Homo sapiens: one gene and its partners. The protein of the gene in region 3 interacts with the protein of the main gene of each other region in a pairwise test. Each region holds a gene or a part of one and is shown on either strand. Other genes may lie near its edges.

Evidence for each region.
Region 1: the proteins of TRIM36 (region 3) and GRB7 interact in binary tests that used the Homo sapiens proteins (3 or more experiments, as listed by UniProt).
Region 2: the proteins of TRIM36 (region 3) and GLRX3 interact in binary tests that used the Homo sapiens proteins (3 or more experiments, as listed by UniProt).
Region 4: the proteins of TRIM36 (region 3) and UBE2H interact in a two-hybrid assay, tested with the Homo sapiens proteins (one large-scale study listed by BioGRID and IntAct).

What each region holds. Positions count from the first base shown.
Region 1 is NC_000017.11:39,744,187-39,752,133, reverse strand, and holds the end of GRB7 (growth factor receptor-bound protein 7), read right to left. Parts: coding exon 7,927-7,947; intron 7,582-7,926; coding exon 7,471-7,581; intron 7,249-7,470; coding exon 7,150-7,248; intron 7,033-7,149; coding exon of another isoform or gene 6,892-7,032; coding exon 6,811-6,891; intron 6,713-6,810; coding exon 6,596-6,712; intron 6,407-6,595; coding exon 6,346-6,406; intron 6,222-6,345; coding exon 6,134-6,221; intron 6,026-6,133; coding exon 5,932-6,025; intron 5,384-5,931; coding exon 5,237-5,383; 3' UTR 4,849-5,236; downstream 1-4,848. UniProt on the Homo sapiens protein: Adapter protein that interacts with the cytoplasmic domain of numerous receptor kinases and modulates down-stream signaling. Promotes activation of down-stream protein kinases, including STAT3, AKT1, MAPK1 and/or MAPK3. Promotes activation of HRAS.
Region 2 is NC_000010.11:130,160,817-130,168,839, forward strand, and holds part of GLRX3 (glutaredoxin-3), read left to right. Parts: coding exon 1-181; intron 182-5,690; coding exon 5,691-5,863; intron 5,864-6,102; coding exon 6,103-6,164; intron 6,165-8,023. UniProt on the Homo sapiens protein: Together with BOLA2, acts as a cytosolic iron-sulfur (Fe-S) cluster assembly factor that facilitates [2Fe-2S] cluster insertion into a subset of cytosolic proteins.
Region 3 is NC_000005.10:115,123,133-115,131,155, reverse strand, and holds the end of TRIM36 (E3 ubiquitin-protein ligase TRIM36), read left to right. Parts: intron 1-266; coding exon 267-564; intron 565-4,298; coding exon 4,299-4,653; 3' UTR 4,654-6,384; downstream 6,385-8,023. UniProt on the Homo sapiens protein: E3 ubiquitin-protein ligase which mediates ubiquitination and subsequent proteasomal degradation of target proteins. Involved in chromosome segregation and cell cycle regulation. May play a role in the acrosome reaction and fertilization.
Region 4 is NC_000007.14:129,938,438-129,946,460, reverse strand, and holds part of UBE2H (ubiquitin-conjugating enzyme E2 H), read left to right. Parts: intron 1-8,023. UniProt on the Homo sapiens protein: Accepts ubiquitin from the E1 complex and catalyzes its covalent attachment to other proteins. E2 ubiquitin conjugating enzyme that transfers ubiquitin to MAEA, a core component of the CTLH E3 ubiquitin-protein ligase complex.

The DNA of each region.
Region 1 (7,947 bases), on a different chromosome or scaffold from region 3:
GTGGATAGTTTGGAAGAAAGAATCCTTCCAAGTGGCTTTGGGCTCCCCTGTCTGTGTCCTGTCCTTCCTCTCTTCATCCCTCATCAGGGTGCCTGGCACTGGGGCCCAAGGAAGGAGCCAGGCAGGGTCCCTGACCTGATGTTGAACCCTTGGGCCTGTCCACCACCCGTGAACTTGGATGTTGCAGAACTGGCCAGGGCTTTGTCTGGATGCCCCGCCCAGGGAGGTGGGCTCCCCTGGAATCATGCCCACCCCCATCCCAGAGTCCAGAGCGTTGGCAGCAGTCCTCCCTCCCCTCCACACTTGAGCAGGCAGGGAGGCCAACATTGTAGCCACACCCTCCACAGAACCCCTACCCTAAAGGCCCATGGTGCTGCCAAGGATAGCAATGTGCCCTGGCACCCGGCTCCCACCGGCCACGCTGGTCCCGGGAAGCTGGAACGTGTGATGCATGGCAGGCAGCACTTCGCGTCAGCTCCCCAGATGTGGGCCCTGTCACCCTCTCTCAGTACTGGGTCCTCCTCTGCATGGAAAGATGATGAGGAATTTCCCCTTTGCCCTCAAGTTTTTTTCTGAAATGTTTTTAATAAGTACGTATAATTTTAGAATGAAACCCAATAAATCAATTTTGAAAAGACAGTATCTGAGGTCCCAGCCCCCACCCTCTCCCCCAGAGAAGCCCCTGCTTCCCCTCCCACCAGCCCAGATTTTCTCAGAACCACAAGCCTCCCCGATCTAGCACTGCAGCCGTCCTTGGCAGTCCTTTCTGCTGTCTGACCACTGTAGGTCATGCTGCAGTCTCTGAGGTAGAGCAGCATCCTTCCCACATCCTCAGAGCTGGGGGATCTTACCCAGGGGTTCCACTGTGAGCTGGCCCTGAGAGGGTCCCTGTGCCCCCAAACTCTTAGCAGCTACGTCTCCAAAAAGCCAGAAATCTCAGACACTCACCAAGAATGGGCTGCTGCTGGTCTCAGGTGGCCAGATCAGGGCCAAATGCTGCCCCCTCTAAGGGCTCTCGGCAGCCTAGGTCCCTCACTGTGGCCAGCACTGAGAAGGGAGGGGGCAGAGAACAAAGGCTAGAGCAGGGCAGGGCTGCATTTCACCACCTGTCCAGTGGGCTGAGTCTGGCCTCTGTCCCGAACTCCCTCTGCGACCCCTGTCGCAGGTGAGTCCCTGTCTTTCCCTGAGCCTCAGTTTCCCATTTGTAAAGTGGGAAGGACATCTGTCTCACAGTCTCCAATTAGCTGATTGACAGAGAGGCTTTGTCTCTGCCCAGTGCCTCAGGCTGTGAAGGGACACTGGGTCCTCTTTTTTTACAGTCTGAACCCCTGGACATGCTGAAGAGGTGACTCATCTTGACCCCTTTACTCTCACTCCAGCCTGGAACTCTGGCACCCACACCTCGGAGGTGGCCCTGGGCACCCATGGCCAGCCACACAGCTGACACTGCCCTGTTCGGTGCTCGAGCCACAGCCTGTGGTGGGGATGGCTCTGGGAACCGTGGCAGGTGGCAGGCAGCAGGTTGCACTGGGTCCTGCCTCCAGTCCTGCTAAAAAGAAGCAAAATCTGCCACCCTTCCTGCCCTTGGGCTGCAGTAAGTTCTTCCAGCAGATTCCCAGGAGGTCCCAGGCTGGGGTGTGCATGAGACCTCTCTGCCCACCTCTGTCTGCTGGACCTGGTCCCAGCTTCCCAGCCTGGAGTTAGCCAAGGATGGGGGTGCCTTGGTCGGGAGTGGCTGCCAGGGCTGCCAGACCCAGCCCAGGGGCTGATTGCAGAGGCTGCACAGTCTCAAGGTCACCTCAGGACAACCCTCCAGGCCAGAGACCAAGGCTGCAGGGAAGGGAGGGGCTCTCTAAGGGAGGACCCCAGTAGGCCACTATTGCTGTCACTGTGGCTGAGGAATGCCACCTGGACGTCAGCCAGACAGGGGAAGCAGAACATGCCCAGACCTGGTCCTCAGACCTGGGTTGGAATCTTGGCTCTCCCACTGTGATCTGGGGCCAGGCTGCCCACTGGGCCGTCAGTTTCCTCACCTACAAAACAGCGTCTCACCACCTCCTGCCCAGTCAGTCCCAAAGATTTGAGAAGGGGCTCTCCATTAAAATATATCAATATATAATAGAATATCCAAGCATATACAAAGGTGGAGAGGATAATTTAACAAATCCCCACATAGCCAGTACCTGTCACCAAGCTTCAACCAATATCAACAGCCAGTGTCAACTCATGGCCACACCATGACTATGCCCACACCCTCTCCTTTAACCTCTGGATTTCATTTTTTTCTTTTTATTTTTTGAGACAAGGTCATGTTCTGTGGCCCAGGCTGGAGTGCAGAGATGCAATCATGGCTCACACCAGCCTTGACTTCCTGGGCTCAAACGATCCTTTCACCCCAGCCTCCCAGGTAGCTGGGACCACAGATGCATGTCACCACACCTGGCTAATTTTTTATTTTTTATTTTTGTAGAGAGGGCCTCACTATGTTGCCCAGGCTGGTCTCAAACTCCTCCCACCTCAGCTCCCAAAGTACTGGGATTACAGGCATGACCCACTGTGCCTGGCCACCTCTGGGTTATTTTAAAAACAAAGCTTCAGCATTACTCAATATACCCAGGTAATAAACCTGCACATGTACTCCCTGAATCTAAAATAAAAGTTGGAAAAAAAAAAAAGAAAAGGAATAAAAACAAAGCTGAGACATCATGTGATTTCACCTTTAAATACTTCATAATGAATTTCTTAAAGATAAAGATTTAGAAAAAACCGTAACTGCAATACCATTATTACACCTTAGAAAGTTAGCCATAATCCCTTAATATCATCGAATATCTGATCAGAATTCAAATTTCCCCCAATTGCTCATAAATGCTTTTTACAGTTAGTTTGCATTTGAATCAAAGGTCAACACATCATTTGGTTGATATATGTCTAAATTTCTTGAAATCTAGAGATTGCCCATCTTTTCTGGTAATTTTGTTGCTGTTGAAGAAGAAACTGGGTTATCTGTTCTGTAGAATTTCCCAATCTGGATTTTTGTCATTGTTTCCCTTGTATTTCCCGTAAACTAGTTGTTGAATCCAAGGAATCAGATTCAGGTTTGGTGTTTTGACAAAAACAATGACTAGTTGGGGTTCACAGGTCTGCAGGAGGGTCTGTCTCCTGAGTTAAGCAGCAAGTTCAGATGCAGTCGATCTGACATATTTATTAAAGAGCTCCCATCAGGTAAGAGCTCAAACTAAAAAACTCTTAGACAAGGCCAGGCGCAGTGGCTTGGGTGTGTAATCCCAGCACTTTGGGAGGCCAAGGTGAGTGGATCACTTGAGGTCAGGAGTTCAAGGCCAGGCTGGCCAACATGGTGAAACCCCGTCTCTACCACAAATACAAAAAATTAGCCAGGCGTGGTGGCAAGCGCCTGTAATCCCAGTTACTTGGGAGGATGAGGCAAGAGAATCGCTTGAACCCAGGAGAAGGAGGTTGTAGTGAGCTGAGATCGTGCCACTGCATTCCAGCTTGCGCAACAGAGTGAGACTCCATCTCAAAAAACAAAACAAAAAAACCTCTAAGACAAAAACATAGACTGGCATGAGCAGTGGGCAGAGGCCAGACATCTGTCTTTTTTTTTAAGACTGAGTCTTGCTCTTGTTGCCCAGGCTGGAGTGCAATGGCATGATCTTGGCTCACTGCAACCTCTGCCTCCCCGGTTCAAGCTATTCTCCTGCCTCAGCCTCCCTAGTAGCTGGGATTACAGGTGCCCGCCACCATGCCCAGCTAATTTTTGTATTTTTAGTAGAGATGGGGTTTTGCCATGTTGGCCAGGCTGGTCTCAAACTCCTGACCTCGTGATCCGCCCGCCTCGGCCTCCCAAAGTGCTGGGATTACAGGTGTGAGCCACAGTGCCCTGCCGGGAGTGGTGAATTTATATTTGAGAAAAGATCACTCTGGGTGCTGAAGGATGTGTTGGAGATGGAAGCCAGATGCAGAGGGCTGAATGCTAGCAGGCTCCATTTATATGGCTTTCTGGAAGGGGCAGAACTAGGACAGAAAGGAGGTTTCAGTTTGGGTAGGAGGGAGCATGGCTGATAGTAGGGGGCACAGGGACTTGTTGGGGGTGATGAGGCCATTCTGTGTCTTGGTGGTGGGGCTGGATGCATAACTGTGTGCATGCTGGGGCCAACTATCCGTCAGCTAGTCCAGGACTAGCGGAGGACAAGCATGCTGTCGGACTCATCTCCAACTCCCAGGCCCTGTTAATTACCTCTCTAGACTTAGACTGTCAGAAAATCTCTCTGGGATGATGGTCTCTTGTCTATTCACTTACTTAATTAGCAATGACTGGGCGCCTACTATGTGTCAAGCTGCATGGTGGGCACTGGAGACTCTCAGATAACCACTCCTGCCCTTGAGGAACATCCAGGCAGGCTGAGACATGGCCTCGATCCATTTGACACTTCCACCAAGGCCTCCACAGGTGCCCACCTCTCCAGGTCTCCCCTCTTTTTTTTTCCAGACAGGGTCTCACTCTGTCACTCAGGCTGAGTGCAGCGGCACAATCTCAGTTCACTGCAACCTTGACATCCCAGGCTCAAGGAACAAGGGATCCTCCCACCTCAGCCTCCTGAGAAGCTGGGACTACAGGTGCACACCACCATGCCCGGCTCATTTTTTTATTTTTTGTAGGGACAGGGTCTTGCCATGTTGCCCAGGCTGGTCTCAAACTCCTGGACTCAAGCAATTCTCCTACCTTGGCCTCCCAAAGTGCTGGGATTACAGGCATGAGCCACCACGTCCAGCTCTGGTTCCCTTCTTGATTCAGCCAGCCAGGCCTTGCCAGACAGAACTCATAGGTGTATCAAAAAATAATCTTTATTGTCACTAGTATAAAACAGAGCAGATCAACTGGCCTCTCGGTCTGTACAAAGTGTGGGGCGTGAAACCGCCTGGGCTGCCCCCACTTCTCCCATAATTCCCTGCCCTAGAGCAGCACCTCCAGAGCTAGGAGAAGGAGAGGGGGCCACCCAAGGCCTTCCCTTGAGGAGAGGGGTCAGGAGTGGACTGGAGTGGGGGCTGTTTTCTATCTGAGGGAGGCAAAGAAGCAGAGGAGAAAACTGGAGTGGCGGAACCCTCCCGCTCCTCATCCCGTCCCCTGTGGCCGCGCCCCAGAGTCCACTGGATGGGTGGAGGGGCGGCGGGCAGCCTGAAGGCGGGCTGAGGCATGAGCCAGTCCACGGCCTGGTCAGAGGGCCACCCGCGTGCAGCAATGGCGCAGCAAGCACGGCAGGATGCCGCGGTTCAGCTGGTGGAACTCCACGAGCTGCAGCAGGTCAGTGAAGCGGGTCTGGCCATCATCCATGCTGAAGTACAGGCGGCCCTCCTCCTCGCTCTGGGGTACAGTAAAGGGGGTGGAAGTTCAGGGAGGGGCCCGAGGCTTGGGAAGCTCCCTCCTGGGCCAGGGCCCCACCATTTCCTTTTATTCTTTTCTTTTTTCTTTTTCTTTTTCTTTCTTTTTTTTTTTTTGAGACAGTTTTCTCACTGTGTCATCCAGGCTGGAGTGTGGTGGTGCCACCATGGCTCACTGCAGCCTTGACCCTCTGGGCTCAAGCAATGCTCCCACCTCAGCCTCCTGAGTAGCTGGACTACAGGTGTGCACCACCATGCCTGGCTCATTTTTAAATTATTTGTAGAGATGGGGTCTCCCTGTGTTGCCCAGGCTGGTCTCGAACTCCTGGGCTCAAGCCATTCTCCCACCTTGGCCGTCCTAAGTGCTGGGATTACAGGTGTGAGCCACCGCACTCAGCCTCCCACTTCTTGTGCAGGGAAAAGGGAGACGCACTGGGGGCCAGGGAGCCTCTGGAGGGGCCTGGTGAGGAGGACAGGTTGCTGGGAGTCCTGTGTCTCATTGCAGGACTCCGGGGACGCAGGGAAGCTCACCGGCAGGATGAGATAATGCTTCACTTTCTGCAGGTGGCACAAAGAGAGGACAAAGCCCTGGGGGTTCCGCTGACTCTCCCGGACCAGGAACAGGCTGCCAGAAGACAGGAGATGGGGCAGCATTACTACCCAAGGACCATGGCTGCCACCTGGACCCCAGTCTCTCTTATCCCTGGGTCTGTTGCCCGGCCCTGCCCCTTACCCGTCTACCAAGCCCTGCTGTCCAATAAGCCGCTGGCTCTCCTCACGGGAAATGCGCCCGTGGAACCAGAGTTGGGTGCGGTGGATGGCTGTGGTGGGGAAGGACATGGGCGGTCACTTTGGGGAGGGGACCCCTATACCATCTACTCCCCACTGGGAATACAAAGAGAAGTTGAGGCAGCCCCCGCCCCAGGACTCGGGGCCGTCACCCACCTGCACTGAGGCTCGTGCCGGAGGCTGGCATGGGCAGGCTGAGGCGGTGGTTTGTCTTCTTCTGTGGAGCAGTGGGAGATACGGGAGAGTCGGGGCGTGCTTGGGGGCATTACCCAGCACCTCAGGAAGGTAGAGCACTTCTTCCCAGCCAGGGGCCTCCCCCCGCCCTCTCTTCCTCCCTCCTATTTCAGGGATCCCACCCAGAGAGTGGGTCCCCAGCACAAACACACACACACACAGCAGGCCTCACCCTCCAGGCCTGGGCCTCCTCCAGGGCCACACTCAGAGCCTCCCGGGGGTTCTCAATGACACGCCCAGCATGGCCAGAGAAGTCCATGGCCACCAGGGTATTATCTGAGGCACTTCTCTGGAGATGGAAGGAGAGGAGAGAGGTCAGAACAGGGCCCAGGTACCCGTAAGACAGGGCCTGCATACCCACCCTCCCATCCCCTTGGGCACACTCACCAAGGGTGGGGAGCCCAAACAAGATGGATGCAGATGGCGAGACTGTGCCTGCTGGTAATTCTTGTACAGCTGCACCCCGTACTGGGGGTGGGGAGAGAAAGAGAGCTTGAGGTCGAGAGGTCCTGGGGGCGTGGCTGTGACGCCCCCCTCAGACCAGGACTTGCCCAGACCAGGGCTGTGTTTCTGCCTTCGATGGGCACTTCCTATAACTTCAGGCTTGGACTGGGGGTTATCAGAGAGCAAGGCTGTGATGCCCTCCTCATTCCTGAGACTTCCTGAGGGCAGAGCTGGGGATCCCTCTGGCCAGGCCAGCCCCCCATGCCACTCCCAGGGTCTCACCTTGAAGAGGCGGAAGGCAGCCAGCCAGCAGGTGCGGCTCTGCTCATCTTCACTGCAGAAGATCCGAAGCCCCTTGTGGCCATTTCGAAGCTTGTTGGGCTGCAGAGAGAGGAAATTGACTGGTCCCATATCTGCCTTTAGGACCACATGTCTGCCCCTGCTCCACATAGCAGAGCTGAATCCAGGAGTTTCCAGCAGGCCAGGGTGCAGGGAGAGGAGTCTAGGTGTCTGAATTGGGGCTCAGAAGCCCCGGGCAGGATCCAGGGGCCTGAGCAGTTCCTGCTTCCCCAGGCCAGGGGCCAGGCCTGGCCAGGTCTTCACCTTGACACAGAAACCGAAGTCAGTGGGCATCCCGTAGAGCTTGCGGCCCTGCGTCACCACGTACACGTTGGACTCGTTCACATCTGCCACGTACTGCAGGTGCCTCGGATCCTAAGCAGCATGAGTGAGCAGGACTTGGTACAGGTAGATCCCGCCCACTATTACCTCCCCCCACAAGCCAGGTGGGGAGATTTCAGGACCAGAGAGGGGCAGGGGAATACCCAGGGTCACACAGCAAATAGAAGTAGAGCCAGGACTTAAACTAAGATCATCTTTTCTCCTGCTACCTCCCTGGGCAGGTGAGCTAGGCAAGGATGTAGGGAGAGATGGTAAACTGGAGGTGGCTGGCCTGGGGGGCCCAGGGGGAGAAGGGCTCAGAGGTTCCAGCAGAGAAGGGGCAACTTCTAAAAGGACCAGGGACTGGAGGGGCTGGGGCTGGTACCCTCAAGACCTTACCTTAGAGGTGCCCTTGGTGGA
Region 2 (8,023 bases), on a different chromosome or scaffold from region 3:
TTAGATGGTGCACATGCCCCAGAGTTGACCAAAAAAGTTCAGCGACATGCATCTAGTGGCTCCTTCCTACCCAGCGCTAATGAACATCTTAAAGAAGATCTCAACCTTCGCTTGAAGAAATTGACTCATGCTGCCCCCTGCATGCTGTTTATGAAAGGAACTCCTCAAGAACCACGCTGTGGTAAGAAGCTGCCTTTAACATAATATAAACAAAATGGGTGCTTTCCCAGAATGGGGTATGGTTGAGATGGGCATCCTGTTTCCAAGGATGCTATACCATACATCTTATACTTGTGTTCACATACTTTTAGAAAATCAAAAAGGTTATAATTCCCAATGACACTATATAAGAATTAGTTTGCATTATGGACTCAGCATGTTGGAACCAAAAGGGGTCTCAGAACTCATCTAATTCAGATTTTTGTTTTATACTGAAGTCCTCAGACTCAAAGATAGAGGTGACTTGCCCAAGGTCACCTGGTAAGCAGAGTTAGGATTAGGTTCCAACTACCATATTGCTGTCTCTTTTGCCTGTTTATCTACTTTTGCTGTTAACAGTTATTTTTTCTTTCTTGGCAGCCTCCTGTTTTTCACCTAGTTCAGATTCAGCAATTAAAAAATTTGCGGAATTTTTCAGTGTTTTTGTGTCCAGCCTGTGTGCTTTTGCCTCCCCTGTGTCATCACTGTCTAATGATTCTCTTCCTGCATTGCTGTCATTTCCAGTTTATAGCTGCTGGTAATGGAAAGATTCCGAATTCTTGGCTTGTAGTCACTCTTATTTTCTGTACACATGGATGCTTATAATTTTGTCCTTAAGTAAGTTTTAGAGTTATTTGACCCCTCTGGTAGTGGGTTTATGTTATTTTCTTTTTACTGTGCCTAGTACAACATTAGTATGCTGCATAATTGAGCATTTAATGCCATTTGATGATGCTGTTGAGACTCTAAGAGTATTTGTATCAACTACACAGGAGGGACTTTATTAAGATAGGGGCAGTAACATTGAGTATGCTCTTGATATGATTACAGCATGTCCAGAGTGACTTTATAAAGATAGCCAAGCTTCTAGTGTGAATTTGATTCTAAATTCTTCCCTGTAGGGTTATTAAATTACATATTAGCTTATGATAATGTCTAGTTTTAAAAATAAAGTTTCATGATGAATTCTTATTTTTTCGAGATGGAATTTCGCTCTTGTTGCCCAGGTTGGAGTGCAATGGCACGATCTCAGTGCGACGGAACCTCTGTCTACTAGGGGTCAAGCGATTCTCCTGTCTCAGCCTCCCGAGTAGCTGGGATTACAGGTGTCCACCACCATGCCCGGCTAATTTTTTTGTATTTTTAGTAGAGATAGGGTTTGTCCATGTTGGTCAGGCTGGTGTCAAACTCCTGACCTCAGGTGATCCGCCTGCCTTGGCCTCCCAAAGTGCTGCTGGGATTATAGGCGTGAGCCACCATGAATTCTGTCTTAAAAGTATCTCTTAGTTCTGCCTAAAAAATTTCCCTGCCAGTATTTATGTGTCAGATAATGCCTGCTATTTGTGTATTGCAAAGCTAACTTAGTCTGTACTAAACTAAAGGTAGCAACAGATAGTCTCTGTTGCGTTTGTTATTTTGTTTTTAACGGGGGTTGCAAATGGTTCACATTCACCTTCTTCCATGAAACATGAAAATTATTTCTTGTACTTTGTGCGGTGGCCACTAAATGGGAACTTACCACTTCAGTTGAATGGATTGTATTCAGCACCTTCATTCAGATCTCAGGTACAGTAGAACTGGCTGTGAAATGTGGGTGAAGCACACCTACAGTGAAATCTCTACAGTATTCTCTCCTTTGGGGTTGAACAGCAGCAGTCTCAGTCTTTTCTGAATGATAAACCTAATGAAAAGGCAGGTGGCAACACTGAAGCTTGGGGAAGGAGTGCTCAGAGGAGAAGGATGTCCTGGGAAGTGTGCTGCACTGGGTGTCATGCCAGGCGAGCCTCAGGCCCACCCCTGCGGCCTTAGCAACTTTGGGGACAAGTCAGGTACCCTCCTTGTGCCTTTAATTCCTTCTAGTGCTGTTGGGAACAAGATTGGCTGTTGGAGCCAATCTTGGAGGGCCTTTTCAGTGTAGATATTGTATGATTATTCAAGTAAATTAGAGAGAAACTTAGACATTTTAATTTTTCTGCTTACCTTTTACTTTATTAAACTGAATTTAAAATATACTGCTAGCATTTTTATATTTATATTAAACTTATTTAAATTATGTTTATTATAATGGAGTGAGATTTGGAAGACTGTACAAATAACAGAATAAAAAAGAAGCTTTGAAATATTTCAGGGCTGGGCGTGGTGGCTCATGCCTGTAATCCCAGCACATTGGGAGGCTGAGGTGGGCGGATCGCTTGAGATCAGGAGTTCGAGACCAGCCTGGCCAACATGGCGAAACCCCGTCTCTACTAAAAATACAAAAATTAGCTGGGCATGGTGGAGTCCTGTAATTCCAGCCACTTGGGAGGCTGAGGCAGGAGAATTGCTTGAACCTGGGAGGCAGAGGTTGCAGTGAGCCGAGATCGAGCCACTGCACTCCAGTATGGGTGACAGAGTGAAACTCTGTCTCAAAACAAAACAAAACACATTTCAGAGCCATCTGAAAACGTAGTATTATAGTTATTTAATTAATAAAAGACAATAAATATTTTGAGATACATATGGTTGAATGGTTACAGTTTCTTCTTTTAAAGTACTTCTATATAATTTTTATAACTACATTTTCAGTGGGTTTTTCTGTTTCCTGATATTTTCTGTTTCATGTCTTTCTGTCACATATAGTAAATAGATCATTTAAGAATGTTGCTGTTCTTTAATAAAATACTTAGGATTAATTGGAAAATATTTTTAAACTGTTTTCTTATGGGAACATAAGTCACCTCGACCCTCTGCTGTTCCTTTCTGAGCCTGGTTAGTGGAGCATTGTTTTTGCTCTTCTTCTGGCATTTTAGAGAAGGGCGTAGGCAAAGCTCCCTTTATAAAAGCACTGGCCATCTCATCTTGTGAACACGCACGTGGCTGCTCTTTCCTTATTTTGCACCAAATTAGCTTTGAAAGTGCTATCTCTGCTAACACCACTGAACTCCCACTGCGGAGTATTTTGATGTTTGTTTTTTGATTAGTTTGTCCCCACCTTGCTTTCTGCTAATCAGAAAAACATGAATGAATAACATTTAAATTTTATATCTAGAAAACCTTGAAAGCCATTTTTAGGGTCTCTCCTGGAGCCCCACTGGACTCAGCCTAACCCCTGCACAGGTCATGTCTCCATCTTCTTATCCTTCATGTGGGCTCTACCTGCAGAATTGTATGGTGTGTTATGAGCCTGACGTGTAGATAGGGTCTCAGTTGAAAAGAATTGGATTGTCCTTACTCTGTGCTCCTCATGAAGATGGGAAAATGCTTGTTTTAGGAAGAGTTTCCAGAAGCACTGAGGTATATGTCATCTTAAACAGAATCTTAAATCCTTGAGCAGGTTAATTATTTGGGAATTCTTATAACTATTTCAGTTAACAAAGCTTTTAGCAAAGCAAAAGGTATTTGAGGCATAGTCAGATATTCCTTCTGCAGTGAGAGTCATCCAGCCGGGCTCTTACTTTTGAATCAGCCACAGAATCAGGTTTCAGAGATGTTTTTTAGGGTTTATTGTTAGGTAGTGATGAGATGCGGTGTTAGGCACCTATTCATGTCATGAGTAGAAATGACTGGGGGTGGAAATGGGGATTCTGTGGCAGTTAAACATTACTTTTCTACATTTAAATATTTTTATTGCATGCATGCATTTTTCTTAAAAAAAGGTGTGTAAATATTTTGTTACTAGAATAAAGCCTTCTTGCCATCTTATCCTTAAGCGTAACATTTCTAGTCTGCCACTTTAACTCTTAAAAATGAAACACTACCAATCAATCTTTCTAGTCTGCATGTAATTGCCTAAAGCTAAAATAAAGCTTCTTCTCAGCCAGTTACAGTAAAAATGAGTTAATATATTGGCAACAGAATAACCATCAGCAATCAGCCGTTAGCTGTTTACTAATGAACTCCCAGATGAATAAAAAAATTTCAGAATCAGTGTTTTACTTCAGGCTGTACATGAACTTAACACTTCAGATGTAGGAAAAGCAACTTATATGCTATACAAATAAATACTAGTGCTTCATCTCAATAAACTGCAGATTTGGAAAATGTTTAGAGCTCACTTGTAGATCCATGTTTTAATAGTAAATATGATTTTGGGTGACATCAGTAAAGCCCATTCTTGCAATTAATCTTATATTGAATTTTATGGTTTGATTTTATTTAAAAACAATTGCTGACACTGCTAAGTCTTATAGAAATTTTGAATCTGAAGAATAGGTTCTTTTCCAGTGAATTACAACTGTGTTTGAGAAGAAGAATGAGGCGTGAAAGAGTAGGGCCCTACATAGTATTGGGAACAATGGAGAAGAATTAGCTTATGGAAAGAAAAATACTTTTTTTTTCAGACTAGGCTAATAGGTTTATAAAAGACTGATATTCACACTCTTATTCTTCAGTTATAATGTCATAATAAGATGATGTCAAAAAAGTACAGAATAAAAATGTGTCACAAAAGTATAATAAAATCATGGAACATAAAATTGTCGCTATAGTGTAGTAAAAAAATTACATTACATACTTTAGGGAATGTAAATAGTTTTAAAAAAGAAACTGTCAAGTTATGACATGAGATGAGAAAGAATACCGTCAATCTATTGATGGTTCATATATAACAACAGAGAAGATAGCTTTAAAATTCAATGTACTGTGTGTATTTTAGACTACAGGAGAACACATGCCTTCTTGATTTCTAATTTATCCTACTTAGAGATAGTGAAGATTGAGAACTACTGAAGTGGGAACTCAGGAAGTAGTAAAATGGCAGTAGAAATGCAACAGCATTGGGTTTTAAGTATAGTCAAGTAGTAGTTAAAAATAACAATTGTAGAATTTTTTCATCTGCCCAGAATTGATTCTCATAGATTCATAACAGAAAGGCTGGGAGGGACTGTCAGAGCATCAGGTCAGTCTCCTGATTAGTAGGAAAGTGCTGAGCGGAGGCCACCCATGGCCTCATCATGTGTCACCTTGGTGGGTGGAGGGAGCAGGTGTCAGATTCAGATTTCTGGTTTTGTTTAAAGACAAGGTCTTGCTTTATCACTCAAACTGGAGGCTGGAGTGCAGTGACAATCTCATAGGTCGCTCCAGCCTCAGACTTCTGGGCTCAAGTGAGCCTGTTGCCTCAGTTTCCCCAGTCTCTGGGATTACAGGTGTGCACCATCACCCCCAGGTCTCTGCTTTTTGGCTAGTGCTATTTCTCCTGTGACAAAAAATGTCCATGATATTGAAGAATAACTTTAATAAATACACACACCACTTTTTTTTTTTTTTTCAGTAGTCACAGTTGTGTCAAAAAGTTAAGTCATATCTGAGTGTGTGATATGGTTCAAGGTCAAATAAGGGGATCCAGGAATTTATTTTCTCTTTGTATATTATTCAGCCATGCTAATTAAATCACCAGCAAAATAAGGCAGGCGTCTATGTCTTTTAGATGATATGTACGCTGAACTAATGTATTATCATGTGTATGTGTTTTGGGAGAGAGAAGTTAAGTGCTTTATTTCTTTTTTTGTGTACAGGTTTCAGCAAGCAGATGGTGGAAATTCTTCACAAACATAATATTCAGTTTAGCAGTTTTGATATCTTCTCAGATGAAGAGGTTCGACAGGGACTCAAAGCCTATTCCAGTTGGCCTACCTATCCTCAGCTCTATGTTTCTGGAGAGCTCATAGGAGGACTTGATATAATTAAGGTTAGAATTGAGAAGTCTGTGCTTTGTAAAGAAATTCCATTTAGAGCATACTTTTTAAAATGTTGTGATAAATCTAAGATACAAATTTCTTATGAATCTATATTTACTAATAAGAACCTGCAATGAATACACAGTATTTCTGATTAGTTGATTGATCAATAATCTGTGTTATGGTATGATCAAGGAGATTTATGTTATAATAATTTTTTTCATAAAACTGGTATGTGTGCTTATTTTAGGAGCTAGAAGCATCTGAAGAACTAGATACAATTTGTCCCAAAGCTCCCAAATTAGAGGAAAGGTAAGTGTTTTAGAAGGTTTCAAATAGCCTATCATTTAATATATTAAAAATATTTTAAAGTCCTCAGGTTTTGCATTGCTCTTTCTGTGTAGAAATCAAGGATTTGGTATGCCAGACGTCATAATTGTTTAGTCACATTAGCCATTCAAACTTTGGCAAATCTAATTTGTATTGGAGAAATTTTAGCACCAACTTAGTGATCATGTGGAGGATCTGCTTTGCTTTTATAGAAATGTCATTGTTTCTGTGGAACAACCAAGTTTTGCTTACCTCTCTGCATTTCAGAGCCAGGGTCCAGTTGTTTTGTCACTGCTCCTTGGCGTAACCTCAGCACACTCGTGTTTTACTGGGTGCAGCCTTGGTGACTGCTGCGGGTGCTGCCCCAACGCCAGAGCACTGAGTGACAAGTGGTGAGTGTGAAAAACTCATCACCTCGCAACAAGCTTTGAGCACTTCTCATGGCCTTTCTAGACCACGAGAACTTACATGAACAGATTTTGGAGGTGTGAAACATGTATTTGTTTTATCAAGGATCTCACTTGGCTTTTAGAGACGTTCTCTTACAGAAATGTTGGACTTTGGTGTGTAAGGCAACTTAATGGGATTTTTATTGCAGTAAAATTAATATAGAACTTTAAAAAGGAATTTATTATATCAGCAATCAGCCATTCATAGTTGGGGCTGGAGATTGTAAGATAAACCTTCCTTTGGTAATTTTTTTTTGCCATGTAACATCTTGAGAATTTCTAAAAGTGTTTAATAATAATAAATACCTCATTTGTCTGTCGTTAATTAATAATTTCTATAAACAGCGTCCAATCCACGTATGTCAGGCTGATCTTTGAGTGCCGCATTCTGTCCTGTGGTTGGTACCATTTCCTGTGTTCTTCATGAGAAAATGATACTCCTCATCCCTTTTTTGACTCTGGGCGTCTTCATGTGTGGTTCTTGCCTGTAGCCTGGTGATGCCCTTGGCCCATGGAGGCTGTGTGGTCTCCAAAGACAGCTGTGTTTTTTATATGCTTGTATTTGCTCTTCAGTTGATTTTCCTTCTCTGCTGAGTGCACTTGCCGCTGTTAATGGCCTTGTCTCCATCAGACCTCCGTTTCCTAATGTGCTGCTTCTAAATCTGTGCTTGCAGACACCAAAGGGTAACGGGCTAGAATTATGTCGGAAGGAAAATTCAGCATATTTGGAGTAATAATTTAAAGGGCTCCGAGTGAGCAGAGTGTAGGAAGTGGAGTTCATGGACTTGTGACATGTATTTTGGCAGTACTTTGTGAGCTGTGGTTCCCTGTATCCAGGTGACTGGGTTAGTTAGTTGGGTTGTCAGGGTCAGCATTGTATTCCTATATCTGTTCATATTTTTCTGAACTTGAGCTAATCCCACTCGGTTGGCAATGTAAGTGATACAGCTTTGTGCGTGATTGATGCATTTCATTTGGGATGAGTTTATAAGGATATTTATTATTATTTTTTTTTGAGACGGACTCTGGCTCTGTAGCCCAGGCTGGAGTGCAGTGGTGCTATCTTGGCTCACTGCAAGCTCCGCCTCCCGGGTTCACACCATTCTCCTGCCTCAGCCTCCCGGGTAGCCGTGACCACAGGCGTCCGCCACCACGTCCGGCTAATTCTTTTGTACTTTTTAGTGGAGACGGGGTTTCACCGTGTTTTGCCAGGATGGTCTTGATCTCCTGACCTCGTGATCCACCTGCCTCAGCCTCCCAAAGTGCTGGGATTACAGGCGTGAGCCACCGCGCCCAACCTCTAAGGAGATTTTTGAGCTGTGAATTGGGAGAACATGGTGGCGTGACCCCATGGGGCTTAGGTTCTTTAGTGACCCGTTGTCCCAGCACTGA
Region 3 (8,023 bases):
AAAGAGCTGTTTTTATAAATTTTCACATATATTTAAAATATTTACATCTGCTTTATGAGATTTCTGAAGATTTTTAGGTAGACAATATACTGGATAAGATATATTGCTAAGTTGGGTTTTGGTTTGTCATAGTTGTCCGGGGTAGTGTGACACCTCCTTCCCGCTTCCTGTCTCTCTTCAGTAATTTCTGTAAGAAAACCTATCAGATTTAACAAACTAGAGCAATGATAATTTTTAGCCTGATATTAATTTTAAGCTCCATTTAGTTTTCAGCTTCCTCTTTGATGAAAAATGTGGCTATAATAATGAACACCTCCTGCTGAACTTGAAGAGAGACCGTGTAGAGAGTAGAGCTGGATTTAATCTTCTGCTTGCTGCAGAACGCATCCAAGTGGGTTATTACACAAGCTTAGACTACATCATTGGAGATACTGGCATTACAAAAGGAAAACACTTCTGGGCCTTCCGTGTGGAACCATATTCATACCTGGTAAAAGTGGGAGTTGCTTCTAGCGATAAACTACAAGAATGGCTCCGTTCTCCCCGGGATGCAGTTAGTCCAAGGTAGGTTTTTGTATTGATCTAGAACTTGATAATTTTTTAAAAGTAAGCCTGAAAATAGATTTGGCTTTGTTACATTTGGAGTATACATTTCTTATTTCTTAGATTCTAGTATTTTGGCTGTGGCTTGATTGAGAAAAGGAGCCGGGTATTCTTGTAATCACACATTGAATAAGGAGAGTTAGCAGTTACTTTTTAATATCATGAGGAAATCCATTTTGGATATCTCTTAATTGTGATATAGCTTCACAGTTTTAAATTTTGAAAGTCTTTAACATGTTACCTATGTCATAAAAATTACCCACGTATATAATACAATGCGTCTGATTGTCATACTTCACAGTTAAGTTGTTCTTTTCTTATGGGACACAGTTTCTTTAAACTTTCCCATAAGTCCTTTTCAAAATTGGGTCATGGTAGACATATTTCCGCAGCAAAGACTTCCAGTTTCTTAAGAGATTGACTAATGAAGATTGTACAGTTCAGTTCTTTTAGATGGAATAAGGTCAACTAGCTTTGAAAAATAATTTTTGACCACTCATGTGAACAGTATCCCAGCTTAACAATCTGAATGATAGGAAAAGCTTTCTTCAGAAAGATAAAAAATTTATATAATGCTGAAAATTTTAACAGTAAAACATAGTGACATGTCCACTTGATAGAAAATTAGTATTAATGTTTAAAAAGTTCATAACATGAGAAATACTAGAAGTGGAGAAACCTAGTAAACGTTGTTGATGCAGTATTATCCAAAATATATAAAAAGCAACATAGGCATATTGAAAAAAATGGGGAACATGTTTCAAAATTTTATATAAGTTTTTTATTGTTTTATGATAAAGGTGAAAAAGCTTCATAATCTTTGTTTGCTTCATACATCCATGATGAAATCCCAACCAGGAAATAGAGTTCTTAGGATGAGAATGAAACATGCTTTTTTCTCTTGCATTATTTTACAGTGCTCATATATTTCACTTAGCCTGGTAATCCTTGGTTTAGGGCATACATCTTATCTTTGTATTTTCTTTTCTTTTTTGAGACGGAGTTTTGCTCTTGTTGACCAGGCTGGAGTGCAATGGCGCGATCTTGGCTCACCGCAACCTCTGCCTCCCGGGTTCAAGCGATTCTTCTGCCTCAGCCTCCCAAATAGCTGGGATTATAGGCATGCACCACCACACCCGGCTAATTTTTTTTAGTAGAGATGGGGTTTCTCCATGTTGGTCAGGCTGGTCTCGAATTCCCGACCTCAGGTGATCCACCTGCCTCAGCCTCCCAAAGTGCTGGGATTACAGGCGTGAGCCACCGCACCTGGCCTGTAGTTTCTTATACATTTATGTATTAGCTTAGCAACAGGAATATGTTCTGAGAAATATATTGCAAGGCAATTTCATTGTTGCGAGAACATCATAGAGTGTTCTTACACAAACTTAGATGGAATAGTCTCCTACACCCTTAGGGTATGTGGAACAGTCTTTGGTCCTAGAATACAAACCTGTACAGCATGTACTGTAATACTGTAGGCAATTTTAATGCAACAGTAAGTATTTGTGTATCTAAACATAGAAAAGGTACAATAAAAATAAGTTATAAAAGATAAAAAATTGTATACTTCTATAGGGTACTTACCATGAATGGAGCTTGCAGGACTGGAAGTTCTCTGGGTGCATCCATGAGTGAATTTGAAGGCCTAGGACATTGCTGCACACTACTGTAAACTTTACAAACACACTATACACTTAGGCTGCACTAAATTTATTTAAATGTATTCTTCTTTAAGAAATTAACCTTAGTTTTATAAACTTTCAATTTTTTTTTTTTTTTTTTTTTTTTTTTTTTGAGACGGAGTCTCGCTCTGTCGCCCAGGCCGGACTGCGGACTGCAGTGGCGCAATCTCAGCTCACTGCAAGCTCCGCTTCCTGGGTTCACGCCATTCTCCTGCCTCAGCCTCCCGAGTAGCTGGGACTACAGGCGCCCGCCACCGCGCCCGGCTAATTTTTTGTATTTTTAGTAGAGACGGGGTTTCACCTTGTTAGCCAGGATGGTCTCGATCTCCTGACCTCATGATCCACCCGCCTCAGCCTCCCAAAGTGCTGGGATTACAGGCGTGAGCCACCGCGCCCGGCCTAAACTTTCAATTTTTAAAAAAACTTTTTAACTCTCTTGTAGGAACACTTAGCTTAAAACACAAACACATTGTACATCTATATACATTTTTTTTTTTTTTTGAGATGGAGTTTCGCTTTTGTTGCCCAGGCTGGAGTACAATGGCATGAACTCGGCTCACCACAACCTCCACCTCCTGGGTTCAAGCAATTCTCCTGCCTCAGCCTCCCGACTAGCTGGGATTACAGGCATGCGCCACCACACCCAGCTAATTTTGTATTTTTAGTAGAGATGAAATTTCCCCATGTTGGTCAGGCTGGTCCCGACCTCAGGTGATCCGCCCTCCTCAGCCTCCCAAAGTGCTGGGATTACAGACGTGAGCTACCACTCCTGGCCCCCCCCAATTTTTTTTATAGCCTTGTTCTACAAGTTTTTTTTTTTAATTTTTTAAATTTTTAACATTTTAAGCATTTTTGTTAAAAATGAAGACACAAACATAATAGCCTATCCAGGGTCAACATCATCAATATCATCGTCTTCCACTTCCACGTCTTGTCCCACTGGAAGGTCTTCTGGGGCAGTAACATACATGGAGCTGTCATTTCCTAGGATAACAGTGCTGCCTTCTGGAAAACCTCCTTAAAGGGCCTGCCTGAGGCTGTTTTACAGTTAACATTTTTTTAAATAAGTAGAAGGAGTAAGTCTACAATAACAATAAAAGCATTGCATAATAAATACATGAGCCAGTAACAGTCACTTATTAAATATTACATAATGTACATAATTGTATGTGTTACACTTTTATGTAACAACTTTAAGCACTGTTTACACCAGTATCACCACAAACATGTAATGGGTTACACTACAGCCTTACAGTGGCTACCACGTCACTAAGCTATAGGAATGAATGAATGAATGAATTTATTTATTTAAGACAGGGTCTCGCTCTGTTGCCAGGACTGCAGTGCAGTGGTGCTATCTCGGTCCACTGCAACTTCTGCTTCCTGGGTTCAAGTGATTCTTATGCCTCAGCCTCCCAAGTAGCTGAGACTACAAGCGTACACCACCATGCCTGGCTAATTTTTGGATTTTTAGTAGAGATATGGTTTTGTCATGTTGGCCAGGTTGGTCTGGAACTCCTGGCCTCAAGTGGTCCTCCTGCCTTGGCCTCCCAGAGTGCTGGGATTACAGGCATGAGCCACTGCACCCAACTGAAATATTTTAGTTTCATTATAGTCTTACGGGACCACTGTGGTATATGAGGTCTGTTGTTCACTGAAATGTTCTGTGGTACATGATTGTACATGATTGTGTGCTATAAAAATTTAACATTTGACCAGTTATCACTGCCCGCTCCCTCACTTTTTGGAAGGCTAAAATTATCAATGATTTTCTAGGGTTTCACTTCTGTATATAACTAAAGCAGTGTTTAATGACAGGGAATTTGGGGCTGAGTCTGTGGTATAATTCTAAATTGTAATGTGTCATTTTTATGTTTTTGATTTTGTTTTAATAGAAAGCTTTTGATGTAAAAACTATTTTAACTTTACATCAATGTATATTATCCTGTGAAAATGTTTTGAAGATACTTAGATCTATTGTTGAAGATACAGATGCTTTGTATTATGTTTCAGATATGAGCAAGACAGTGGGCATGACAGTGGAAGTGAGGATGCCTGTTTTGATTCTTCACAACCATTTACCTTAGTTACTATAGGCATGCAGAAATTTTTTATACCCAAGTCACCTACTTCTTCTAATGAACCTGAAAATAGAGTTCTCCCTATGCCAACAAGTATTGGGATTTTCCTTGACTGTGATAAAGGCAAAGTAGATTTCTATGATATGGATCAGATGAAATGCCTTTATGAACGCCAAGTGGACTGTTCACATACACTGTATCCAGCATTTGCATTAATGGGCAGTGGAGGAATTCAGCTTGAAGAACCCATCACAGCAAAATATCTGGAATACCAAGAGGACATGTAGTTGAAACATCTGATGTGACTCAGGATAAAAACTGTAAACAAAGCAATGCCTTAGCGTTAACCTTCGTAACTAATTACATATCGCTGAGTGTTCTGTCACCCCACTTGTGTTTGAGTATGATTCTTCTTGAAATACAGAAAATCTAAACAGCCTTGTGTCTTCATGTCGTTGTTCTGCCTTTCACAAATGATGAAAGTGAAGATGTTCTTTCCAAGTTAATACTGAAGTGGTTAACTTTGCAACTGGACTGTCTTTTACTTTATGTACAGGATATCTAATTTATTTCTGTCAGCTGGTGTTGCTGACACTTTCCTTATGGTGGGGGGGATACAAAAGTATTTATTATGATTCTCTTCTGTTTGACTTTTCATTTTTATATCATGTTTATGTCCTAAGAGAAGATATTTTTTAAATGCCTTATGGATAGGAATTAGTACTAAGCAATGTGTCTTGCATTTGTTTTCAATAGGAAAACAAAGTTCTAGATAGGTTAAAAGAAAAACACCATAAAAGTGGTAGTATATTTAAGTGGAAAATTATGTATTTTAAAGTGTGTAACTATTAAAAATATATTGCCTGGAAAAGGAATACTACTGTTTTGTTTTGTTAAGACCACAAACTGTATTGCTAAGGACATTTTAAGAGTCTGCTTAGCCATAACACTCATTTAACAGCATGGGTAGTAAGCATGGTTTCTTGCAGAAAACACAAAGTTCTCAGCTAACACATTAAACTTCTCACTTTATATACTTTTTTTCAGAGAAATTTATCTTTAGTTTTTCTTATTCTGTGAAAATATTTGTTCTTATGTCAAAGAATTATTTTTCAGATATATTGGTAAAGATGGACTGATATTAAAAGTCATATTTATTCTTTTACCCCCTTACTGTGTTTTGTGATTTTCATTTTTGGCCCAATTATTACATATCAGGTTTTCCTGATTTATATTTACATGTTTGAAAAGTTCATTATATATTTTAGTAGCGTTACATATATTATAAATTTTTGTAACATTTAAATGTTCACTTATGTGGCATTTTCTGTTTCTCATTGGTAATAAGCATTTCTAATATAAGCAAGTAAAAATACAAATTTAATTACTTAGAAATGATAACTAAGATCACAATGACTGTGTACCCTTTAAAATATCTTTTAATTTGAGGAATTACATTCTATCTAAATTGTGTGTCTGTTTTTGAAAGGTGTTGCTTTCAAGTAGGTGGTTTTTATTTAAAGTACTTATTTTTTTGAGGTTAAAATATTCAGAAACTACTTTTATGCATTGTAGCAGTAATCATTTATGGAATGCTTTTGACATGTTTTAACAGGGTAACCAAAACTTTTAGGCCTGTTTTTTTTGGTTGTCCTTGTTGTTATATTTTTAATGGAAATCTGTTACTCAGGCTGGTAGCATTAAATTAGCTTTTTACCCTCAACTCAAGTAGCAAATATCATGGAGAACTTCAGTGTTTAGCAGGCTGTTAATTTCCCATCTATGAATAGCACTTTATGATGTAGGCTAAACTAAGCAAATAATGCAGCGTTATGTGGATCATTATGCAATAAAGCTGCTAAAGTCACATTTGTGGTTGATACTCAAGCCTTGTACAAGCACATATGATGTAGACATTTTTAAATGTGAAGCTTTAACAGGAATAGGATAGCTGTTTCAAACCTTGTGCAATTGTAAATAAATTGTTTAGCTGTGTTTCTTTCATTTTTAATAAAAAATTAAAAAGAATTCATGTGTAATTATTCAGATCTGCATTCCAGGAATTTTTAGTATGTTTACATGAAAAGTTGAAACAAACTGATTATGAAAAGATGATTAGCTGTACATATTAACTCAGAGCTACAGTTTTATATGAAATCATTTTGAACATTTATTTATTAGCTTAATTTCTGTGAAAGTGATTATTAGAGAAGCTTAACATAAAACTTCAATTGTTTCATATATTAAATTTTTTTAATATAAAACAATATAAAATTTTATTTTTTTATTACATAAGCTAATAATAATAGTGCAAGTTTGTTCTTTTATCCCCAAAGGAAAAATATGGTAAAAGTTATATCTTGACTAAGGATCTGAGGGTCAACATTTTAATACCAAAATGCTGTGTTTATAATTAATATATTCAAAATATACTCATCTTTAAACCAAATGTTATATACTAAAAGACATCAGAAAGTATCTACTAAATAGTACAATATAGTAACCACCTTGTAACACTGTACTTAATATAGCCCAGTTTTATAAAATACTGTAAATAGTTCTACCGTCTAAGCAATTCTAGATTTTATTTTTCCCTTTGTGCAACAAATCAGAATGCGTGATTATAGAATGCTAAAAGCTCTTGGAGATACTTTGCCAGGCATCTTTGAGGAGAAATTTTAGAGAATCAACGACACTTGATTAAGCATTTATGAACCATAAGTTTTTCTTCTGCTCTCCTGTGGAAAAAAAACAAACATAAAATAAAACAACAAACCATATTGGCAATTGCATATGTTTATAAACATTCCATTATTTTTTTTTTCTGTTTTAATTATCTTTTAAGATGAAATAATCTGTCCATAGGCTAGAGCAGCAAGTTTATGCAAGAGAATATGAAAACATCCTTCCTTCTAGTAGAATATGTATCCATAGTGCATGATGTCCACTGAAGTTTGTAATATTTTTACATGCAATGTTACTATTGCAGTTATTAACAACCTATAATGTTTTGCACATAGTAGGCTTTCAAATGCTGTTAGGATTCAACATGGGACATAAAGCCTAAGAATGGAACCAGATTCCCTAGGGTTTCAGTATTTGATTTCTAGATGACTAGAAGACTGCCCTGGTGTAATCTATGTGTCTTGGAATTTTTTTATGGTGATGAACAAAGTAAACATTTGACCTGGAAATCACTGGAAATATTCGAACCAAACAAAAGAGTAATAAAAAGTAAACCTATCCTTAACTTTAAAACCAAGCATGGGTTCTTCTGGTTGATGGGTGTATAGTTGAGAAAGCATATTTCTCCAGAACTATTCAGTTTCACTGACAGGGAAGTATTTTTTGGCACAATAACCAATTATTGAATTATTTTATTTTATTTTATTTTATTATACTTTAAGTTCTAGGGTACATACGCACAACACGCAGGTTTGTTACATATGTTTACATGTGCCATGTTGGTGTGCTGCACCCATTAACTCATCATTTACGTTATGTATATCTCCTAATGCTATCCCTCTCCCCTCCCCCACACCCCACAACAGGCCCCGGTATGTGATGTTCCCCACCCTGTGTCCAAGTGTTCTCATTGTGCATTTCCCACCTATGAGTGAGAACATGTGGTGTTTGGTTTTCTGTCCTTGCGATAGT
Region 4 (8,023 bases), on a different chromosome or scaffold from region 3:
AGGATGTATTGTTTTCAACCTGTTGATCATACTGTATGTGTCTGCCCTGTTTTTGCTTAATATTTTTGCAACTGTTTTTCCCAGTTAAAAATAATGACTAGGGGCCGGGCGCGGTGGCTCACGCCTGTAATCCCAACACTTTGGGAGGTTGAGGCAGACAAATCATGAGGTCAGGAGATTGAGACCATCCTGGCTAACATGGTAAAAACCCATCTCTACTAAAAATACAAAAAAAAAAAAATTAGCCGGGCGTGGTGGCGGGCGCCTGTAGTCCCAGCTACTCAGGAGGCTGAGGCAGGAGAATGGTGTGAACCCGGGAGGCGGAGCTTGCAGTGAGCAGAGATAGCGCCACTGTGCTCCAGCCTGGGCCACAGAGTGAGACTTCGTCTCAAAAAAAAAAAAATAATAATGACTAGGCTGGGCACAGTGGCTCATGCCTATACATCCAGCACTTTGGGAGGCTGAGGTGGGCAGATCACCTGAGGTCAGGAGTTTGAGACCTGCTTGACTAACGTGAAGAAACCCCATCTCTACTAAAAAATACAAAATTAGCTGGGCGTGGTGGCGCATGCCTGTAATCCCAGCTACTTGGGAGGTTGAGGCAGGAGAATCAATTCGCTTGAACCTGGGAGGTGGAGGTTGCGGTGAGCTGAGATTGCGCCATTGCACTCCAGCCTAGGCAACAAGAGCGAAACTCAGTCTCAAAAAAAAAAAAAGTAGCTCATGTAATATGCCATCCCATGGCTGTGCCATTGATTTAATTCTTTGCCATTTTTCTCTGATGAATAAGATTGAAATTAACATCTTTGTGCATAGGCTTTTCTTTGGGTTATTTCTGTTTTCCCGAAATGGGATTCTAGATCAAAGAAGGTAAACATTTGAATTAAAATATTTAATTAAAAATCTCAGAGCCCTACACTCAGCGGGCTCTTGTTTTGTTGTGTTGTGTTTTAGTTGGTATCGTTTTGGCACTGAAATAGCCTGGCATAGTGATTAAAGATGAATTCTAATTTCCTCATTGTTTAAACTTTGATGTTTTTTGTGATAATGGTGATCCTCAATTTAGGCATAATTTTGTATTCTCAGAGTGCATACTGCAAGTCGGTAGGTTAAATATATTTATGAGCAGATAGATCTAACAGGAACTGTAGAATTAGTTTTGGCATCTTGGATTCTTTTTTGTTATTGAGGTATAATTGACATACAGTTAACTGTACATATTTAAAGTGATACTTTTGATAAGTTTTAATTTTATGTATCACCCATGAAGCTTATCCTTATCAAGAGAGGAGACATATTTATCTTCCCCCAAAGTTTCTTGTGGCCCTTTGTAATCTTTCCCTCCCTCCCTTCCAACCATTGATCTCATTTCTGTCACTGTAGATTATTTTACATTTTCTAGAATTGTATATATAAGCGGAATCATTCAGTACATACTCTTTTTGTGTGGGTTCTTTCACTTATAATTCTGAGATTCACCCATGTTATTTAGTTCATTTTTTTTTTATTGCTGAGTAGTATTCTATTATGTGGATATACCACAATTTGTTTATGCATTCACCTCTTAATGCTTGGTGGCATTTGGGTTATTTCCAGTTTTGGGCTATTACCAGTAAAGTTGCTATGAACATTGTATGGATATACGCTTTTTTTTCTCTTGGCTAAGCTAGATCATGTGGTAGGGTTTGCGCATGCGCGTGCGTGCGTGCGTGTGTGTGTGTGTGTGTGTGTGTGTGTGTGTGTGTTTTGAGCGCATGCGCACGTGTGTGTTTTGAGACAGGATTTCACTCTGTTGCCCAGATGAGAGTTCATGGTGTGATCTCAGCTCACTGCAGTCGTGGCCACTTGCCTGGCTAATTTTATTTTTTTTGTAGAGATGAGGTCTCACTGTTGGCCAGGCTGGTCTCAAATTCCTGGGCTTAAGTGATCCTCTGGCCTTGGCCTCCCAAAGTGCTGGGATTACAGATGTAAGCCGCTGTGCCCAGCCATGTTTAACACGTAGTTTGAATTTAATGTTTACTGATGATGGTCCATATTTCACACCCAAATAAAATTGTGACAACGGTTGTTTCACTTGTGTGTTTTGTTTTGTTTTGTTTTGTTTTGAGACGGAGTCTTCGCTCTGTCGCCCAGGCTGAGTGTAGTGGCGCGATCTCGGCTCACTGCCAGCTCCGCCTCCTGGGTTCACGCCATTCTCCTGCCTCGGCCTCCTGAGTAGCTGGAACTACAGGCACCCGCCACCAAGCCTGGCTAATTTTTTGTATTTTTAGTAGCGACAGGGTTTCACCATGTTAGCGAGGATGGTCTTGATCTCCTGACCTCATGATCTGCCCACCGTGGCCTCCCAAAGTGCTGGGATTACAGGCATGAGCCACAGCGCCTGGCCTCACTTGTGTATTTTAAAGGAATCATGTTAAATTACATGCTCTTAAAGCACTGATTTATTTTTTATTATTAACCTTATTTTATAGTATATGAATTTTGTTAATTTTTTTATCAATAAAACAAATTTTACCACAATGATTGTGATACCTTTCACTTGAATAATGATTTAAACACTTTATCTTCCTTTTTTAAAGACAGAATCAGTCTCGCTCTGTCGCCCAGACTGGCTCTCTGCAACCTCTGCCTCCTGAGTTCAAGCGATTCTCCTGCCTCACCCTCCCGAGTAGCTGGGATTACAGGGGCCTGCCACCACACCCAGCTAATTTTTGTATTTTTAGTTAGAGACAGGGTTTTGCCATGTTGGCCAGGTTGGTCTTGAACTCTTGACCTCAGGTGATCCGCCTGCCTCTGCCTCTCAAGTACTGGGATTACAGGTGTGAGCCACGATGCCTGGCCAATCTGGTTTTTTGTTTGTTTTTGTGTTTGTGTTTTTAGACGGAGTCTGGCTGTGTTGCCCAGGCTAGAGTGCAGTGGTGCGATTTCAACTCACTGCAACCTCTGCCTCCCGGCGCTTGGCCTAAAGCATTGATTTCTAGCTGAATTTGGTTAAAGCTGATTTGGTAGCTACTCTTCTCTCCCCACCCCCATTTGAAATTAGTAAATTAAATTTTTATTGTGAAATATTTTTGTTAGCCTGAGCTACATGGCAAAAGCCTATTTCTACCAAAACAGATAAAAAATTAGCCAGGTATGGTGGCATGCACTTGTAATCCCAGCTACTCTGGGGGCTGAGGCAGAAGGATCACTTAAGCCCAGGAGGCAGAGGTTGTGGTGAGTTAAGATCATGCCACTGCAGTCCAGCCTGGGTGACAGGGCAAGGCCCTGTCTAAAAAAAATGTTTTGTGGCCCTTTGAAATTACACTTTAGGAATCTGGCCGGCCATAGTGGCTCATGCCTGTAATCCTGGCACTTTGGGAGGCTGAGGTGGGCAGATCACCTGAGGTCAAGAGTTCAAGACCAACCTGGCCAACATGGCGAAACCCCATCTCTACTAAAAATGCAAAAACTAGCTGGGTGTGGTGGTGCACACCTGTAATCCCAGCTACTCAGGAGGCTGAGGCAGGAGAATTGCTTGAACCTGGGAGTCGGAGGTTGTGGTGAGCCGAGATTATGCCACTGCACTCCAACCCCGGGGAACAGAGCAAGACTCCATCTCAAAAAACAAAAAAAAAAACACATTACACTTTAGGATCATAGTCACAAACAGCAATTTTATTTTTATATTTGCTAGTAAGGCTCTATATCTTTGTGAATAGGTAAGCACACTTTTTGTTGATGGTATTATTTTCTTTGTAAAGTATTGATAAGATTTTTTTTAACATTTCTTTAGCATTTCTAGTGAAGTTTACAGCAGTTGATAAATATTTCTGGAGCACTCTGTTGAAGTCTGAATAATATCTTCAATTTTCACATGGAATAAACTCAGGTGAAAGGAACTAACAGCAGCTCAGTGACAGAATGGGAAACAGACTATAAGAGTTAGGATATCCTTTGATATCATGCTTTCCTGGAATTTTTGTGTGTGTGAGAGACGGAGTTTCACTCTTGTTGCCCAGGCTGGAGTGCAATGGCATGATCTCGGCTCACTGCGACCTCTGCCTCCCAGGTTCAAGCGATTCTCCTGCCTCAGCCTCCTGAGTAGCTGGGATTACAGGCATGTGCCACCACGCCTGGCTAATTTTTTATTTTTAGTAGAGAGGTGATCCCCCTGCCTTGGCCTCCCAGAGTGCTGGGATTACAGGTGTGAGCCACCGCGCCCAGCCTGGAATTTTTTGAAGCTTTTTTTTTTTTTTTTTTTTTTTTGAGACCGAGTCTCACACTGTCACCTAGGCTGGAGTGCAGTGGTGTGATCACAGCTCACTGCAGCCTCGAACTTCCGGATTCTGAACTCAATCCTCCTGCTTCAGCCTCCCGAGTAGCTGGGACTACAGGCGTGTGCCACCACACCTGGCTTACTTTTGTATTTTTCGTAGAAACAGGGTTGCGCCATGTTGGCCAAACTGGTCTCCAACTCCTGGGCTCAAGCGGTCTGGCTGCCTTGGCCTCCCAAAGTGTTGGGATTACAGGGGTAGCCACTGTGCCTGGCCTTAAGTTAATTTTTAGTGAAATGGTGCTTAAAATTTTTTTTTGGCATCTTAAGAGTTATTTGATAGGTTATTGGACACTGCCATAATAAAATTAGACATTGATTTGTAATAGTTGTTGTTACATTCTTTCTGATAAATTATAAACAATTTATCTTATGGACATTTACATGTGTGTTGCTAAAAAAAAATTAAAGCTGGATTCAGTGGCTCATGCTTGTAATCTCACCACTTTGGGAGGAGTGCTTGAGCTCAGGAGATTGAGGGTGCAGCAAGCCATCATTATGCCACTGCACTCCAGCCTGGACAACAGAGTGAGACCCTGTCTCAAAAAAAATTAATATTACTGACAGCTGGAACTTTTAGTTTGGCTAACAAAAAGGTGACCTGGCTTGTACCTGTTTTAGTTTGGAGCAATGATAGTATGTTTGGTGAGTAGACTGTTTTGGTATTCAGACACAGGAATGGTGCCCTGAGCATATAAATTCCAGTGTCTTGGCCAGACGCAGTGGCTCATGCCTGTAATCCTAGCACTTTGGGAGGCTGAGGTGGGCAGATTGCTTGAACTCGGGAGTTCGAGACCAACCAGCCTGGGCAACATAGTGAAACCCTGTCTCTACTAAAATACAAAAAATTAGCCGGGCATTGCTTGAACTCAGGAGTTCGAGACCAACCAGCCTGGGCAACATGGTGAAACCCTGTCTCTACTAAAATACAAAAAATTAGCCGGGCGTTGCTTGAACTCAGGAGTTCGAGACCAACCAGCCTGGGCAACATGGTGAAACCCTGTCTCTACTAAAATACAAAAAATTAGCCGGGCGTGGTGGCTTGCGCCTGTAGTCCCGGCTACTTGGGAGGCTGAGGCAGGAGAATTGCTTGAACCCGGGAGGTGGAGGTTGCAGTGAGCTGAGATGGTGCCATTGTACTACAGCCTGGGCAACAGACTGTGACTCCGTCTCCAAAAAAAAAGATTCCAGTTTGTTATTTTCTATGCTGAAGTGTAATTCGAGTGCATTGTAGAAACTTTTGAAAACACAGTAGTCTGTTGAGAGGCTGTTGTTGCATTAGTGATTCTCAATTGGGTATCACATTGGAGAAGAATTAAGCTTTTGGGGGCCCAGGTACTATGGTTATTGTAATTTCTTCTCTGTACCTCACCAGATGCTTGGGGAAGGTGTCTGGTTGTTTATAGGCTGGTGCTCAAGGGGGTATCTGCCCATGACCAGTAGAACCCAAATCCTCAAGAGCCTGGGGAAGCCCTACATGGCAGCCATATGCTTAAGAGGGAAGGAGGATCCTTTTTGCCTCTCCCTGCTTTGTAGGTATCTAGGACGTTATGTAGGCAGTGTGAATAGTTGCTGCTGATCTTCTGACCTGTCCCTGCAGAGAAGTCAGAGAGAGGAGTAGGTAGCCCTTGTGAAGGGAGAGGCTTGGCTGGACTTTGCCATTCTCTGGAAGACTTTGCCATTCTCTAGAAGATAGGCATGGTTGGCGGGTCTGTCAGTGGACTCAAAAAAGGCACCTGTTCTGTAGCACTTGGAGGATCCATATTTAGGATATCAATTAATTGAGAATGTAATCTTTGTCTTTGGTTCAATCTCCTGGTTTCTAACTTTTAAACCATTTTTAGGGAAGCATTATATGTGAAGGTAGGAGATACTCCCTACATACAAAATCATGTTATTAATGTTGTGAATTATGCATTTCCTTTTTAGTATTAGGCAACTTTTTTTCATATATCAAGTTATCATGTACACTTTTCAAGGTTTTTTGGATTATAAAATCTTAGTTGAGGTAATATAAATAGAAAACTAGATACAGAGTGCGTGTCTGGTTTGTGTTACCTCAGAAGCAATTGGGCTGTCACTTAGCCTAGCAAAAAGTAAATTTAGTTGTTTTGTCCAAAGGGTGCCAGTATAACTTTGGTAATCTGGATTTTGCTTTTCTTTCTTTCTTTCTTTCTTTTTTTTTTTGAGATGGAGTCTCATGTTGTCGCCCAGTCTGGAGTGCAGTGGCTCCATCTCGGCTCACTGCAATCTCCGCCTCTCAGGTTCAAGCGATTCTCCTGCCTCAGGCTCCCGAGTAGCTGGGATTACAGGCACGCGCCACCATGCCCGGCTAATTTTTTGTATCTTTAGTAGAGATGGGGTTTCACCATGTTGGCCAGGCTGGTCTCAAACTCCTGACCTCGTGATCCACCTGCTTTGGCCTCCCAAAGTGCTGGGATTACAGGCATGAGCCACCGTGCCCAGCCTGGATTTTGCTTTTCAATTTGATGACTATGTTGCATAGACAGTTGCTGATAAGTTGATTAATTTAAAAATTCAGAATTTGGTTGGACATTTCCATTGTAGCATTTGTATGTAGAAGGTTGATTGGTTAAAGTCATATCAGTAAGAGATCACCAAGAGTAATATATAGATGGATATAATGTTTTCATGGTCTTACTGCTGGATGTTTACTACCCTTTTGCTATTCTTGAATCTAAACCTGTAAATAAATTAGTGATTCTCCTTGGCAGCAAAGCTTGGAACTATATAACTCTTTTAATTGTATTCCGAAAGAAGGAAACTGGGTAACAAATGCTCACTTTCGCTGGTTGCAGTGGCTCATTCCTTCAGTCCCAGCTACTGGGAAGGCTGAAGCAGGAGGATTGCTTGAGTCCAAGGCTGTAGTGTACAATGACTGTGCCTGTGAATAGTCACTGCATTCTCCCACCTGAGCACTATAGTGAGACCCTGTCTCTAAAAATTAAAAAAACAGTCACTTTTATATGGCATTTGGTTCTCACAGCTGTGAATTGTACTTGATCAGATCATTAATTCAAACTAGAGGCCGGGCGTGGTGGCTCATGCCTGTAATCGTAGCACTTTGGGACGCCAAGGCGGATAGATCACCTGAGGTCAGGAGTTCGAGACCAGCCTGGCCAACATGGTGAAGCCCCATCTCTACTAAAAATACAAAAGTTAGTTGGGTGTGGTGGCAGGCGCCTGTAATCAAAGCTGCTCGGGAGGCTGAGGCAGGAGAATTGCTTGAACCTAGGAGGTGGAGGTTGCAGGGAGCCGAGATCGCATCACTGCACTCCAGCCTGGTGACAGACTGAGACTCTGTCTCAAAAAAAAACAAAAAAAACAAAAAAACAAAAACATCAAACTAAGCCTACAAGTACATAATCTTGTGAGGGGAATCTTGGACAGTTTGGGTCGGCTTTGTTTTTTTTTTTTTGAGACGAAGTTTTGCTCTTGGCGCCCAGGCTGGAGTGCAATGGCGTAATCTCGACTCACCACAACCTCCGCCTCCCGGGTTCAAACAATTCTCAGCCTATCGAGTAGCTGGGATTACAGGCATGTGCCACCATGCCCAGCTAATTTTGTATTTTTAGTAGAGACGGGTTTCTCCATATTGGTCAGGGTGGTTTTGAACTCCTGACCTCAGGTGATCCACCCGCCTCGGCCTTTCAAAGTGCTGGGATTGCAAGCATGAGCCAGCCTTTT